2 separate regions of the Homo sapiens genome follow, and region 2 is linked to region 1. Evidence: fine-mapped expression QTL. A gene starts in region 1. The other region holds a variant in brackets. All regions are shown on one strand. Distances are between the middles of the regions.

Evidence for each region. PIP is the estimated chance that this variant, and not a neighbour inherited with it, causes the effect. A credible set is the group of variants that fine-mapping cannot tell apart.
Region 2: its variant is the best candidate, but not a certain one, in a credible set for the expression of ANPEP in whole blood (TwinsUK, PIP 0.72).

Annotation. Positions count from the first base shown.
Region 1 is chr15:89,810,089-89,818,459 of GRCh38, reverse strand. ANPEP (alanyl aminopeptidase, membrane) reads left to right here and starts at 3,608. Exons shown (of 21, transcript NM_001150.3): 1 at 3,608-3,688. RefSeq lists cis regulatory regions at 3,225-3,227, 3,245-3,274, 3,273-3,276, 3,184-3,312, 3,564-3,569, promoters at 3,184-3,672, 2,518-3,672 and an enhancer at 3,540-4,039.
Region 2 is chr15:89,840,957-89,849,327 of GRCh38, reverse strand. All of the region lies in intron 8 of ARPIN-AP3S2 (ARPIN-AP3S2 readthrough), which reads left to right. All of the region lies in intron 4 of AP3S2 (adaptor related protein complex 3 subunit sigma 2), which reads left to right. Among named protein-coding and RNA genes, the nearest start is that of MIR5094, 5.6 kb to the left of the region's middle. RefSeq lists an enhancer at 1-1,122. The variant AAGAGAGAG/G (reference allele first, on the strand shown) is at 5,043.

The DNA.
Region 1 (8,371 bases):
AAAGCAAATTGTGTGTCTCTGTGCTTTTTCCATTTAAGTACAATTGATAAACGACTTGAACACGGCTCTGCGTCTAGGTTTTATTACTAAACAACCTGTCCTGGGGAGCGTTCTGTAAGGAGAATCCTAGTTATTTTTGATAGCCATATGCATTCCATTGCAGGGCATACAATAATCATTCATTTATCCCATCTCTATTGGTGGACATTTAGGTTGTCTCCAGCTATTAGATTGGTGCAAAAGTCATTGTGGTTTTGGCTCAATGTTGCAGCGATGCAGTGGAAAGCCTTGTGTATTCCTTTCACTTACGTGTGAGCATTATCTGTAGGATAAATTTCTGGAAGTGCCAAGTCAAACAGGACATGTGTTTATATGTTTGATAAATACTGCCCAAATATTCTCTTTTGAGGTCGAGTCAGTCTACACACCAACCAGCAATGCAGGGGGTTGCCTGTTTTCCTCCCACCCTTGCGAATAGTGTGTTACCAAACTTTTTTTTTTTTTTTTGAGACAGGGACTCACTCTATCGCTCTGGCTGGAGTGCAGTGACACGATCATGGCTCACTGCAGCCTTGACTTTTCAGGCTCAAGCAATCCTCCCACCTCATTCTTCCAAGTAGCTGGGACTACAGGCACGTGCCACCACGCCTGGCTAATTTTTTTTTTTTGGTAGAGACAGGGTTTTGCCACGTGGCCCAGGCTGGTCTCGAACACCTGGTTTTAAGTGATTCTCCTGCCTCAGCCTCCCAAAGTGCTGGAATTACAGACATGAGCCACTGTGCCTGACCTACCAAACTGCTTTTTATCTTTGCTGATCTGGTAAGTGAAGAATAGTATCTTTTGTAGTTATAATTTTCATTTTCTTAATAAGTGAGTTATTGAACATCTTTTTACATGTTTATGAGCCCATGAATTTTCTTTCTGCAGGAGCAAGCACTGTCTCTTCATCTTTTTTTTCACAGGGGGTGGACAGAGTCTCTCTCTGTTACCCAGGCTGGAGTGTAGTGGCGCAATCTCGGCTCACTGCAACCTCCACCTCCCGGGTTCAAGCGATTCTCCTGCCTCAACCTCCCCAGTAGCTGGGATTACAGGCACCCACCACCATGCCCACCCAATTTTTGTATTTTTAGTAGAGACAGGGTTTCACTGCATTGGCCAGGCTGGTCTCGAACTCCTGACCTCGTAATCTGCCTGCCTTGGCCTCCCAAAGTGCTGGGATTACAAGCATGAGCCACCACGCCCAGCCCACTTAGGCTATTTCTGATTTTCCAGTATTATAAGTAATACTGCAGTGAAAAGCCTTGCATATAAATATTCTATTTCCTTAGGCTAAATTTATTTATTTTTTTGAGACAGTCTTGCTCTGTAGTCGAGGCTGGAGTGCAGTCATGTGATCTCAGCTCACTGAAGCCTCTGCCTCCCAGGTTCAAGCGATTCTCGTGCCTCAGCCTCCCAAGTAGGTGGGACCACAGGCATGCGCCACCACACCTGGCTGATTTTTGTGTTTTAGTACAGACACAGTTTCACCAGGTTGCCCAGGCTGGCCTTGAATTCCCGACCTCAAGTGATCCACCTGCCTTACAGGCATGAGCCACCACGCCCAGCCTCTTCAGGCTAAATTTCTGAAAGTGATCTTCATTCCTAACCCCAAACTGCCCTCCAGAAAGCTGGGTTGCACTTCTGCCACAGCAGGATCTTTACTCCTCTTAAAATCTCCGCGGAGCCTGGGTGGGAGAGGCAGAGCTCCGGGGGGAAGATTCTCTCCTGGCCTGATGTAGTGTTTTCCTTGGCTTGTCAGACATGGAGGAGATTATGCCAGATATGATAGTGGAGAGAGTCAGACATGCATGAGACTGGAGAGAGAAAAAAAACAAAATAGCCTCTGAGGTCTCACTCACAGCCTACTTACTCTTACTTTACACACAATTCTATATTCCGATATGTTTGTGACCTGGTTTTTAAGAGTACAGAGCAAATTAGGAAGGAGAAGCAAGGCTGCTACCTAGAGGTACCCTGGTCCTCCATGAAGTTTCCAAAAGAAGAGCAAGTGCAAGTAAAATAATAAAACACAGCCAGTCACAAAGCCATCAATTTGGACCATGCAGTGCAAGGCTTTAACTGTCCCAAGGATTCCAATCATGGATAAGGAAGAGCTTAAATTTGATTATAAATCTGAAAGTCTGGAAGTCAGCTTGAATATTGTGGTAGACATAATCATATCCTCCTCCTCAAAAGATGCCCTGGTTCTAATGCCCAGAATCTGTGAATATGTTATGCTACCCCACGAAGGGAAATTACAGTTGCAGGTGGAATTCAAGTTGCCAATCCATTGATTTAAAATAGAAAGATTACCCTGGATTATCTGGGTAGGCCCGATGTAATCACAAAGATGCTCACCAGTGGAAGCAAGAGGCAGAACAGTTGGTGTCAGAGTGACAGATTGTGAGAGACTGGTGGGCCACTGCTGGCTTTGAAGATGGATGGGGCCACCAGCCAAGGAATGTGGGCAGCTTCTAGAAGCCAGAAAAGCCAAAGAAACAGGTTCCCTTCCAGCCTCAAGAAAGCTGTATCCCTCAACCCCCTTGCTTTTAGTCCAGCGAGACCCATTTTGGACTTCTGATTTTACAAAACTTGTAAGATAGTAAATTAGTGTTGTTTTATGTTTGTGTTACGGCAGCCACAGGGAACCAATACAAATATTATCTGGTACCGCCCATTAAAGCTGCTCAGAGACAGGGAGCCCCACCCTGGCGGGGCTCCGGTGGCTGCACAACCTCTGCAAGCAGGATCAAGATGAGAGGCGCAGGCCAGGTGTGGTGGCTCACTCCTGTAATCTCAGCACTTTGGGAGGCCAAGGCGGGCGGATCACTTGAGGTCAGGAGTTCGAGACGAGCCTTACATGGTGAAACCCTGTCTCTACTAAAACTCCAAAAATTAACCAGGCGTGGTGGCGTGCACCTGTAGTCCCAGCTACTCGGGAGGCTGAGGCAGGAGAATCGCTTGAACCCAGGAGGAGGAAGTTGCAGTGAGCGGAGAAAGTGCCACTGCACTCCAGCGTGAGCGACAGAGCGAGACTCTGTCTCAAAAACAAATAAAGGAAAAAGAAAAAAATGAGAAGCGCGTGTTCCCGACTCCGGTGCTTTTTCGCAAGGTCGTGCTACTGCGCCTTCTGAACTACGAGTCCCAGGTACCAAGAAAGTTGAATTGCGTGCTGTGGCGGGTCCGTTATCTGCACCACCCGTCTGCACGGGATGCGCTGGCTTCCTGCCCCGGATGCACAAGGCTCCCTGCGGGACACTCAGGGCGAGGCTCTGAGCCCCTCCCCCGCGGCAGATGCCGTCCAGATGTGGCCGGCGGGTCCCGCGGGCTGCGGCGACAGGGACCCCGTCGGGGGCAGCAGGAGCCCTGGTGCATCCCAGGCCCCGGGGGGAAGGCCGGGCCGTCGGAGGAGCGGAGGAGCCCTGGGGGGCTCCCGGGAAGCCGCGGGCGGACGGGGGAGGAGCCCGGGCGGAGCTGCGGGCGGGCGGCCCGCTAGGGGTGAATCGGGTGGAGTAGTGGTCGGGTCCGGTTACTTCCCTTTAAAAAGACGGGAAAGGAGGAGTCCAGTGCTGGAGGGGCAGGGACGGCGGCGGCGCAGCTCGGAACCCGCCAGGGTCCAGGGTCCAGGTTCCAGCGCCCGGCGGCCCAGGCAAGTGGGGCGGGAGGGCGGGGGCTGCGGGCGCGGGTAGGGGTCGTGGGGCAGTTGGGTGCGCGGGAACCGAGGGAGCTGCAGACCCAGCGCTTGGCGCGTGCGGAGCTGGACTTCTGCGGCCGCGACGCCCCTCTTCCCAGATGGGTAAACTGAGGGCCAGGGAAAGCGAAGAATTCTTTTGGCCGAGCTCCCACTACGATCTCGCGGTCAAGTGGGTCCCCAGCGGGCCTCGCAGGGGTCGGAGGGGCTCCCATCTGGGGAGGGGGCCCCAGGGTGGGCGAGGGCGACGGGAGCCTGGGGAGGACGGACGGGGAGGGCGGCGGAGCGGAGCTAAGCTGCGGCGGGTGGACCCGGCTCGGCCGCGGCCACTCTGTCCCTGGTGGGTGGGGCGCGGCCGAAGGCAAAGGGCGAACCCGGCCCGCCTGTGGGGTCTCTGGCCAACACTGGGCTCAGAGGCCCTTTCTTTAACCTTAGATCTCGCTCCTCGGTCTAAAGCCTCCGCCGCAGCTCTCAGTGAAGAGGAAGGGGAACTCTAGGTGCTCAACGCCCGCGTTACAGTCGCGTTCTCCCTCGCTCCTACAACCCGGCCAAGATGCCGGGGCATGGATGGGGACCGAGGTTTGGGGGTTGTGGAGCCTATTCCACGCCCTCCCTGGTGAGCAACTGAGACAGATCCAGGGCCCCATTGCAATCCACTCTTGGTCTGGGAAAAGGTCCCCTAAACAGGGCCAATGGGATCCTTTCCCCAAATGACTCCAGAACGCACCCCCCCCCCCCAGCAGTGCGGTGGGCAGGGACGGCCCAGGTGGGCTATGTCCTGGGGTTTTGTGACTGGATCCCCACTCCTCCCCCACCTCAGCCCCTGGACTGCAACCCACCAGGCCGTGTTCGGGGGTGGTCAGAGCCCTGGTCTCAGCCAGACCTGAGGTCTGATGTGGCTTCATCCCTGAGTCTCTAAACGCCCTGGCCTTACTGGGCCTCAGTTAATTCACCTGTGAAAGGGGAGGCTTGGACCAGAGGGCCCCTCAGGGTATGTGTTTTGTGGAGGGGAGGTGGGCGTGTGGGGTAGGGGTGACCAGGAGGAAGTGGGGACAGCCTCTGTCCCACAGGAAGGCTGGCTAGCCCCAGTGGGTATGGGGGAGCTGGGCAGGGAAGAGGGTGGACTCCCCTCTCCCTGTGGGAGGGTGTGCTGGGCCCATGAGGCCCTCATCCACTCTCAGCCACCTTCCTGTGGAGCCCTAGCCTCGAAGGCCACACTATGAGTGCAAGGAGGCCACCCACAGCGCTGCTCCCGCTTCACAGGTGGGGAAACCGGCCCAGTGTCTTGAGGCAGCCCAGCCGCCTGCCCTGTGCTTCCCCCAGAGCCTTCTGGGGAATGAGACCTTCGTTACACGCTGGCGCTCCTTACACCCCTACAGCCTTTAAGCTAAGGCCTCCAGCCCCATCGCTGTAAGAATTGTATGCTAGGCATTCTGAGGACATAGATGGGGGTCCCCATGTCGGAAGGAGCCAAGGTGTTGGAACTGGGTCCAGTTCCTGGGCTGGCTCTGGTGGGAGATCTGGAACCCTATGCTGGGGCTCCTGGACAGCCCTGGAGGCATGGCATGGACAGTGTGTCAGCCGCACACCGAGGCCCTGGGGTGTCCTTATTCACATAGGCTGGCAGCCATCTATCCCTAGCCCGGGCTTCACCCCGGGTGCCTGTCACTCCTGGCCCTACAGTGGTCCCAGTCACACCTTGGAGGCAAGATGTGGGTCCTCCACAGGCCTGTGTCTGGAAGCAGCCCCCAGCACTCCCTGGCTAACAAGTTCTACTTCTGAGAACTACCCCCAGCTCCCAGCCCTGGTCTGGCCAAATGGGTGCGTGTCTTCTCCTGTGGTCTTCAACTCCCCTTGGCACGGCCACAGTAGATGTGAGGGGCTGTATGGGAGGACATTTTTAGGAGGCATATGTAGTTAAGCTGTGGAACCTGCTGCTAACTAGCTGTGTGGCCTTGGGCAAATCACTTAACCTTTCTGTGCCTCAGTGTCCTCATTTGCCAAATGGGGGTGATTATCCTGGTAGGGCACATAGTAGGTGCTCAGTTTCACCTACCATGTGTCTCACCAGGATAATCACCCCCCATTTGGCAGACAGGAGTTGCCAGGCAGGATCTGTGGCCCCACACAAACCCTATGTGTACTTCCCCCACCCACAAATGCCTCTGCTCCTTCCTCCTGTGTGCCCTGCATTGGGCTGAAGAGGCTGATGAGAGGCAACTTCCCATTGGGGCCTTCTGAGGTTCTTGCAGGAGGGGCAATGTCCAAGGCTCCCAGAGGAAGCACCCTGGGGTGATGCAGCTATGGGCGGAGGCCTCAGAAGCCTGGGAGAAAGCCAGGGGCCTGCGGGGACAGAGTGTGCCCTGGCCCAGGCCCAGCCTCGTCCCTACCCTTCTCGCTCACTGCTCCCTCAGAGCAGACAATGAGCCCCAGGTTGTCCCTGAGCTCCCAGTCTCATAGTTCACAGTCAGGGACACTGAGTGGGAGTGGGTGGGGCCTACCCAAGGACCCAGTGGTCGGGGATGGAGCATGGATAACACAGCAGCTCACCCGGCCACGGGTGCTCAGCTCTCCCGGCCACAGCCCCTCCCAGGCTCCTGGAGTCTTCATATTAGAGTAGAAAGCCTCTTGCACTTCACATCTGAGACCAAGGAGCCTCTCCCCACCCACAAGTGTGGGTGTCTTCCACACTGTGACTGTGACTTAGTTATGCCCTGGCATGATCGTTGTCAACCTTCATGTTTTTTGGTTTTGGCTTTGGTTTTAGTTTAGAAGAACTTACGTTTTCTGGACTAAAACATAGGCAGGGAAGAAATACATAAACCCATAGAAAGGCTGCTTTAGTTGAAGTGGGTTGAGAGCTCGGCTTCTACCCCGTCAAGAAATTCACAGCGAAAGGAACACATGCATTTTGCTCACTGGCAGAAAGAGCCTGCACCAAAGACAACCCGCAGGGCCAGCAACCCCAACATCATACAGGGTGGAGCAGCAGTTCCCAAAGCGGGTGCAACTGGACAGGATCCTTTTAGGAGCTACCTAGAGGAACAATTTTTTCTTTTTTTCTTTTTTTTTTTTTTTTTACTTGAGATGGAGTCTCACTCTGTCGCCCAGGCTGGAGTGCAGTGGCACGATTTCGGCCCACTGCAACCTCCGCCTCCCGGGTTCATGCCATTCTCCTGCCTCAGCCTCCCGAGTAGTTGGGATTACAGGCGCCCACCACCACGCCCGGCTAATTTTTTGTATTTTTAGTAGAGATGAGGTTTCACCGTGTTAGCCAGGATGGTCTCGATCTGCTGACCTCGTGATCCGTCCGCCTCAGCCTCCCGAAGTGCAGGGATTACAAGCATGAGCCAACACGCCCGGCCCAGGAACAATTTTTAAACCAATAGTCATGAATTGTTAATATAAATTAACACATCCAACCATGATTTTATCGCTCAGAAGGAGGCTAAGAAAGTGAATTGATTTAAAGAAAAATACGAAGTAAATAATCACAAAGGTGGATCACGAAGGTGGTTTGTGCACAGCCCAGAAGCCCAGGAAGGAATGTCGGGTAGAGAGGGTGGAACCTGTCCCGAGGATCAAGGCTCTGAAGTTCCATCCTTAACTGCTGTCTCTCATTCTTGCACTGATGCCCCATTCCACAAGCACGTGTTGCCCTCCCACTGCACGCCAGGTGTAGAGGATACGGCACACCTGGTGCTACCCTCATGGAGGCACTTGGAGGGCTGCCTGGGGGCAGCACCACTGACTTGTGTCTCCAGGGCAAGTGGGGAGTGGATGAAGCAAAGGCAGGAAGCTTTCCAGGCCCAAGGATCAGCTTGTGTGTAGGGAGGAAGGGAGAATGAAGCGGGGAAAAGCAGGTTGGATTTGAACTGAAAGAGGCCACTGGGGTGGAGCACAGAAGTGACAGGGGAGAGCGTTTGAGATGAGGCCAGAGAATCACTGGGGGCTGGATCACACAGGCCCTGTAGGTCACGGCAAGGACTGTGGGTGTTGTCATTCATTTGGCCAACATGTATTGGGCTCCTGCCTTGTGCTGGGCATGGAGGGGCATACGATGCCACCAGGCCTTCCTTTGAGGTGCTTGGGTGCAGCAGCAGGCTTTTGAACACACTGGTAGCATTTTTCTTTTTCTTTTTTTTTTTTCTTTTTTGAAACAGAGTCTCGTTCTGTTGTCGTCCAGACTGGAGTGTAGTGGCACGATCTCCGCCCACTGCAACCTCCACCTCTTGGGTTCGAGCGATTCTTCCGCCTCAGCCCCCCAAGTAGCTGGGACTACAGGCGTGCGCCACCACGTCCAGCTAATTTTGTATTTTTATTTATTTATTTATTTATTTATTTATTTTTTGAGACAGAGTCTTACACCGTCCCCCAGGCTGGAGTACAGTGGCACAATCTCGGCTCACTGCAACCTCTGCCTCCCGAGTTCAAGCGATTCTCCTGCCTCAGCCTCCTGAGTAGCTGGGATTACGGGCACCTGCTACCATGCCCAGCTAATTTTTTGTATTTTTATTAGAGACGAGGTTTCACCATGTTGGCCAGGCTGGTCTCCAACTCCTGACCTCGTGATCTGCCCACCTCAGCCTCCTAAAGTGCTGGGATTACAGGCATGAGCCACCGCGCTCAGCCTCAGTGGCA
Region 2 (8,371 bases), 31 kb before region 1:
CTCCCCCCAAAAAAAGCCCAATTACATTTAGAATATTCTTTTTTAGAAGTCATGGGAGTGTGTAATACGCTTTTAAAGTTTTCTGTTAAAATGATTTAATGGTGATTTAATGTCTCTTTCATGCATATTGTTTTGTCTCCCTAGCTAGAAGTCAACTTTTCAATGAAGTCAAGTATGCCTGGTACTTGTTAATGTGTTCCATGTTGTTCACTGTAGTTACACCTACATAGACATCCAGCCAACAGTCATTGAGTCTAATTACCATATGTTCATTTTTAGGTAAAAGAGATGCAAGGGAATGAGGATAGTCAGTCCTTTGCTTGTCTTAAAACACCGATAAAACATTGGACTTTGGAATGAAAGTACGAGTAAGAGAGAAAAAGGCATATGTACCAGGTCCTCAATACTACTCATAAAGATATCTTCTTCCTCTTTTCATTTCTTTCTAAAATGTATAATATGGGAACTAGAGTCTGACTCTGGGCCAAGATGACTCTCAGATGATTTTCTCTTCCCGTCAGTGCTGAGTCACCTCAGAGCGTCGTTACCCTTTGGCTCATTAATAGCCACCATGCCCCCAAGTATAGACAAGAAAATGATGCATTTCCCATCTCTCAACAATCTCTTCCCTACTTATTTTCTGAAGCCCTTTCCTAGGAATTAATGAAACCAGCTATGCCACGAAGGAGTAGAAAAAGCTATCAGCCTGGGAGGCCAAGGCAGGCGGATCACAAGGTCAGGAGATCGAGACCATCCTGGCTAACACGGTGAAACCCTGTCTCTACTAAAAATACAAAAAATTAGCCAGGTGTGGTGGCGGGTGCCTGTAGTCCCAGCTACTCCGGAGGTTGAGGCAGGAGAATGGCATGAACCTGGGAGGCGGAGCCTGCAGTGAGCCAAGATCACGCCACTGCACTCCAGCCTGGGCGACAGAGCGAGACTCTGTATCAAATAAAAAGAAAAAGCTATCAGCACTCAGCTTTTTATATAGTAGACTAGAGTCTTGTCAGTGATTAACAATTCTTTTTCAAAACTTGAGTGTTGCAGTATTGGCATCCTCATGTTTTAATACAAGCACTGTGACCATGCTCTTTTATATTTGATTAGTGTTTTTGTCTTCTATGTATAACACAGTTATTTTGAGAAAGACTCCACAGTAGGAATGTGAGCCTCTGTCTTTTGTAGCACAACAGGCATTTGCCCTACAGTGCAAGGGACCTGGAGAGGGATTGATCTAGATTAGAGGTTTCTATGGATTCGATTAAGCTTGGGATGTGGCATGCATTAACATGCTGCTAGTGTCTCAAAAGATTTTACTTATCCTCTCTGCCTGTGAAATTTTCGGTTAGATGGAATCCTGCCATCCCAATACAGAACTGCATTTTATTATAGAAACAGTATTGTTCATATTAGGTGTAGTGGCAGGGGTGCTCTCTGGTACCACATTTTGGGTAGCTTTATGGATTTAAGTCTGCTTTCATGAGCTGCTAGCCTTGAAAATCTTACTTATTACCTTTATAGAAAAATGCATTGTAAATTTAAATACTTAAACATTTGGAACATGACCAATTTAAGGTTTGGAGACTGTGTTTTTACTAGAGTAAAAGGTAATTTAAATACCTTGCTTATGCCTTCTTGTTTATTATCTTCAGGTACCAGATCAGTCTGTTTTTAAGTGATCTCTGTTGACATGGGATTAGATTCAGAACTTTCTTTGATTTCAGTGAGAAACAACCAGGGATGGAACCCTTGAAGAGCATGGAATCCTCTGTCCTTCCGGAGGGTTGTTGCAACTGACTTGTCCCCACCCCTAGTAGTTCTAGAGCTAGGTTCCTGAGGCACATCTGTATCCTTGAAGAAACACTTTTATTTTTCTTCTTAGATTCAATTCTGATATGAAACTAGCAGACTCATTTTAATCTACTTTTTTTTTTTTTTTTTTTTTTTTTTTTGTAACAGGGTCTCGCCCTGTCTCCCAGGCTGGAGTGCAGTGGTGCAATCACTGAAGTCTTGACTTCCAGGCTCAAGTGATCCTCTTACCTCAGCCTACCGAGTAGCTGGAACTACAGGCTTGTGCCACTATGCCCAGCTAGTTTTTAAACTTTTTTTTTTTAGAGAGACAGAGGTCTCACTATGTTGCCCAGGCTGGTCTTGAACTCCTGGGCTCAAGCAATCCTCCTTCCTAGGCCTCCCAAAATGCTGGGAATACAGGCATGAGCTGCTATGCCTGGTCTTAATCTACTTTTGTCTGCAGAGGTTAACTTTGTGTTGCAGACAGTAAGTAGGTCCAGTTATAGAAGCAAGTACCTTCAAGGGATGGAGGATGAGGTGATAGCATCCTAGAAAAGAAAAAATGAGGCCAGGCGAGGTGGCTCACACCTGTAATCCCAGCACTTTGGGAGGCTGAGGTGGGCGGATCACCTGAGATCAGGAGTTTGAGACCAGCCTGGCCAACATGGTGAGACCCCATTTCTACCAAAAAATACAAAAATTAGCCAGGTGTGCTGGGCGCAGTTGCTCATACCTGTAATCCCAGCACTTTGGGAGGCCGAGGCAGGCGGATCACAAGGTCAGGAGATCGAGACCATCCTGGCTAACACAGTGAAACCCTGTCTCTACTAAAAATACAAAAAATTAGCTGGGTGTGGTGGCACACGCCTGTAGTCCCAGCTACTCGGGAGGCTGAGGCAGGAGAATTGCTTGAACCCGGGAGGCGGATGTTGCAGTGAGCCGAGATCGCACCACTGCACTCCAGCCTGGGCCACAGAGCGAGACTCCGTCTCAAAAAAAAAAGAAAAAAAATTAGCCGGGTGTGGTGGCATGTGGCCTGTAGTCCCAGCTACTGGGGAGGTTAAGGCTGTAGGATCGCTTGAATCTGGGAGGTGGAGGTTGCAATGAGCCGAGATCATGCCACTGTATTCCATCCTGGGCGACAGAGTGAGACCATGTCTCAAGAAAAAAAAAAAATAAAGAGACACAGATGTCCAGAGGTGTTGGGGGAGAGTGGAGAGACTCGATAACAGGTTAGATTGTCTTTAGAGGAATTGACATTTTGACTACAGTACTCATTCCTACTCTTGACTATTTTCAGGGGTTCCAAGAGAAAAATTTAAATAGGACAGAGCTAAAAACACCGACTTTCACTCACTAAAATGTTGTCATAAATTTATGTATCTTGATCTTGGAAAACATCAGTATCTATGCCTCATTTTACCTTTTAAGATTTCAGATTTATCACCCGAAGCATTTTCTCTATTGCCTTCCCCTTATATCAAGATATCCTGTTGGTTTATTGGGGTTATCCTAATCTTTATGTCAGATGAAACTCATCCTGGTTGTAATTATTTTTAGGTTGAATTACCATTGGATTTGCCAAGTACTGAAAAATCAGTAGCACTTTTGTTTAAACTCTGTTAATAAACACTTCTGAGTGAATTTTGCTAGTGTCATTATTTCCCATGCTTGCTGAGTAGAAGGTTGAATTATTATTACTTCATAATTCATATTTGTTCAATGCACACTGTGTGAAGCTGAGTTTAGGCCTCTCGAAGACTTAGCCTCTTTCTTTCTGTTCCTGTGGTTTTGAATACCATTTACATGACTCACGTCTCAGATTTTCTTTCCCTACCAGCCTCCCTGTGTTGGTTTGTGACTTTATCTGTCAGTGTTCTCTCAGGTATTTACTTAGATTTCTGCAGGCATCCTCAAGGTCAGCGCATCAGCCAACTTCTGTTGTTTAACAGAACCCTTCTTTGTGCCCTGACTCTATCTCCAGTTCTTTAGGTACATGAGTTCAGTGTTGATTCTTGACTGCTTGCTCCCACACCCATGCTTGGCAGCCTCCAACTTTCTTAAGTCCCATCTATCTCCAATCAGAGAAATGTTAGCCATCTTTCATGGTCAACTTCATATTCAGTGGACAAGGTCTGAACTGACTAGCAGGACTAACACGGGCAGCTGTTCGCTCATCCATTGCTCACTTACACTTGAGTCATTTTGCTTACCAAAGGTCAGTTGTGATGTTTCCAGATCTCTTTATGCCAGTAAACTGGTACTGTAATTATGTAATTTGATTAAATAATATACAGATTAAATTATGAGGGAGAAAAGAAAATTATTCTGGCTGTGCATGGTGGCTCACGCCTGTAATCCTAGGACTTTGGGAGGCCGGGGTAGGCAGATTGCCTGAGCTCAGGAGTTCAAGACCAGCCTGGGCAACATGGTAAAACCTCGTCTCTACTAAAAATACAAAAAATAAGCTGGGCGTGGTGGCGGGCGCCTGTAGTCCCAGCTACTCAGGAGGCTGAGGCAAGAGAATCGCTTGAGCCTGGGAGACAGAGGCTGCAGTGAGCCGAGATCGTGCCACTGCACTCCAGCTGGGCAACAGAGTGAGACTGTTTCCAAAAAAAAAAAGAAAAGAAAATTACTCTGTGAAAAGTAAGAGGAATGCTTTGGAAGGACAAGTACTTTAAAAAGGAAATGAAGCTGAATTAGGTTTGGGCAAGATAACTATGGAAGAGTAGAGGTGGAAGGATCTTAAAAATCTAGGATTCTGTACTTACTGTTTCACAGCAGTTTGAGTTCTAACTTTAAGAAACTGGAAATTGTAGATGATGCATTCTGGGTGAGTTTTTTGCAATAATGGCAAAAAACTCTAATCAGCAGAAGAGATCCTTCTAGGTTGGGCACATTGGCTCACACCTGTAATCCCAATGCTTTGGAAGGCTGAGGCGGGAGGATCCCTTGAGCTCAGGAGTTCAAGACCAGCCTGAGCAATATAGCAAGACCTCATCTCTACTTAGAAATTAAAAAAAAAAAGAAAAAAAGCTGGGCATGGTGGCACATGCCTATAGGCCCAGCTACTCATGAGACTGAGGCAGGAGGATTGCTGGAGCCCAGGAGTTCAAGGCTGCAGTGAGCTATTATCATGGCACTGCACTCCAGCCTGGGTGACAGAGCAAGACCCTGTCTCTAAAAAAAGAAAGAAAGAAAGAAGGAAGGAAGGAAAGAAGGAAGGAAGGAAAGAAAAAAGTAAAGAAAGA[AAGAGAGAG/G]AGAGAGAAAGAAAGAAAGAAAGAAAGAAAGAAAGAAAGAAAGAAAGAAAGAAAGAAAGAAAGAAAGAGAAAGAAAGAAAGAGGGTTTTTTGGCCCTAGCCAAAAGTTCAGTGGCTCTCAAAGTTTTGTTGTTTATAACAATGATGGTAGGCTTGAACATTCACGGGAAAAGTCACAGTAAAAGTCAGATTAACCATATCTTTATTACTTTAGTTTTAAATGCTATCCATGGACTCTCAGTTACTGAGGGTGAGGAAATCAGTGTTCGTATTCTACCTCCCTCCTTTTTCCCCTCTTCTCTTCCTAGTTTTTGCTAGCTGGAGTTTTATACATCATCAAAGCATATAGTATTGACGATCTGTTGTTACCCTAATCCTATTTTAGTCTTAGACCTACAGTTAAGTAGTTTTCAGTGCTCACCGTAAGTTTTTGCCGTAGTTTTTTTGTTTTTGTTTTTGTTTTTGTTTCTGAGACGGAGTTTCACTCTTGTTGCCCAGGCTGGAGTGCAGTGGCACGATCTTGGCTCACTGTAACCTCCTCCTCCTGGGTTCAGGCGATTCTCCTGCCCCAGCCTCCCAAGTAGCTAGAATTACAGGCACATGCCACTTCTGCCCAGCTAACTTTTGTTTGTTTGTTTTTTTCTGAGATAGAGTCTCGCTCCATCACCCAGGCTGGAGTACAATGGTGCGATCTCAGCTCACTGCAGCCTCCACCTCCCGGGTTCAAGCAATTCTGCCTCAGCCTCCTGAGTAGCTGGGATTACAGGTGCATGCCACCACACCTGGCTAATTTTTGTATTTTTAGTAGAGACGGGGTTTCACCATGTTGGCCAGGCTGGTCTTGAACTCCTGACCTCAAATGATCCACCCACCTTGGCCTCCCAAAGTGCTGGGATTACAGGCATGAGCCACCAGGCCTGGCCCTGCCATAGTTTTTCCAGTCACCTGTTAGTTGGCACAAGTGCTTCCTTTTGTAGATTCCTTAAGAAATACTTGGCTGGGTGTAGTGGCTCATGCTTGTAATCCCAGCACTTTGGGAGGCCAAGGCGGACGGATCACCTGAGTTTGGGAGTTTGAGACCAGCCTGACCAACATGGAGAAACCCCATCTCTACGAAAAATACAAAATTAGTCAGGCGTGGTGGCACATGCCTGTAATCCCAGCTACTCAGGAGGCTGAAGCAAGAGAATCGCTTGAACCGGGGAGGCAGAGGTTGTGGTGAGCGGAGATCGCGCCATTGCACTCCAGTCTGGATAACAAGAGTGAAACTCTGTCTCAAAAAAAAAGAAAAAAAGAAATACCTGGGAATAATGGTCCCCATTCTGTTACCCTTGCTGGACAGTTGACTGGGTATAAAGTCCTTGAGTCTTCTGGGCACAGTGGCTTACGCCTGTAATCCCAGCACTTTGGGAGGCCAAGGTGGGCGGATCACAAGGTCAAGAGATGCAGACCATCCTGGCCAACATGGTAAAACCCCGTCTCTACTAAAAATACAAAAATTAGCTGGGCATGGTGGCGCATGCCTATAGTCCCAGCTACTTGGGAGGCTGAGGCAGGAGAATCGCTTGAACCCAGGAGGTGGAGGTTGCACTGAGCCGAGATCGCGCCACTGCACTCCAGCCTGGCAACAGAGCGAGACTCCGTCTCAAAAATAAAAATAAAAATAAATAAAGTCCTTGAGTCACACTTTCTGTCCTTGAGAATTTTGTAGGTGTTGTTCCATTTTCTGTTAGCATTAAATATTAATGTGGAAATTTTCATTATTTTGTTTCTCTTTTAAGTGATTTGATCTTTTTGCCTGGTTGCAGGAACCCAGAAACCTTACCTAAAGGTGTATCTTGGTACTGCCTATTCTGAATTTGTTTCCCCTGGGATACAGTGTGACCTTTCAGTGTGTAGACCCCAATCCTCTTATAGTTCAGAAACACCTTAGATTCTATCTTTATGAACATATCTTTACATATTTTTCCCATTCATGTTAAAGTTTTCTTTTATGCAAATATTACATCTCCTTTGCTGTCTTTTGTAACTGTTTCTTCTCTATTTCTTTTAGCCCTTTTTGGTTTCATTTTTTTTTTCCATTTCTCTCCTTTTGTTCCTAGTGTGTTTTTAGCAGTTTCTTCTCCCTTTGCTTCTTCCAGTTTCACCTTCATTTCTGTAACAGTATTTTTCCTTTCACTTCTTTCCTCAGTTCTGCCAGTATGCAGCTTGTCTTCTCTTCTCGTCTCCCTACCTCTGCTAAAGTTCTTGTATTTCTGCTTTGAGCTCTCATTTCATAGAGACAACTATTTTATCAAGTTTTCTTTTTTTCTTTGTGTAAAATATTTTATTACCATTGTATCTAGTCCATGGAGGCCCTTTTCCAGTCTGTGGTCTTAGTCTGCCATTTGGTTTTCCTATTTCTTTCCTAATTTTTTCTCGTTGTATATTTATATAGATCCTGTTTAGATTTTTTGTATACTTATCTTTAAATAGGCAAGTTTTTCAGGGACCAGCTGTTTTGCAGGATGTTTGTTGGAGGAGCTACCAAAACTCTGTTCTGGGCTAGCTACAGTTGTTCCCTTGATTTAGGGTTCTGGGTGAGTCCGTTTACCCTTAGTCTCTAGCCAGCCAATCGAGATAGGCAAGGCGTCTCTTAGCATCTCCACAATGCAAAGGATGTCTTCTCTACTACCACAGACACCACCTCTGTGAGGCAAATGTAGCTTGCGTGATTTCTCATTTAGCCTCAACTTCAGGTCCAAGGAAGTTCCTGCCTTCCAAAAACAAGGAATTAATTTGGTGCTGGAGTGTGTCCTTTACCCACAGGAAGTACATATTTTTGCAGATCTTTCTGAGATCACCAGCTTCCCTGTCCTCTCCCTGTAGCATCCTTTCTTCTTTTTCTTCTGTGAAGCAAAGGAGTCCCTGCCTGAGCTCCCTGCTTTTGACAGCTTTTTCACCTGTTTGGGGGTTTGGAATTTTGGATATCCTGTAGTTATAACAAAAATGGAGTTTGCATTTTTATTTCTTCTTTTTGCATTTGGAACATATTTTGAACAGCATTTGAAAATGCTGACTTTATGATGCAGTGTTAAATAAGAAGTTTTAACTGACTTTTTCTGTTAACCAGCCACTAGTCTCCACGACATCATGTGTTAGGCCTTTTACTATACCTTCTCCAGAAAGCCCCCACCACCACACTGTTGTCTATCTTCGAAGTCCCTAAAGCCCAAGGAATATGCTACTTAGATATATGGAAAGCCTTTCATTCATTTAGCATGCCTACTCTGAGCGTTGTTCTAGGCCTTGGAGATAAAGCATGGAAGAATTAATACAAGAT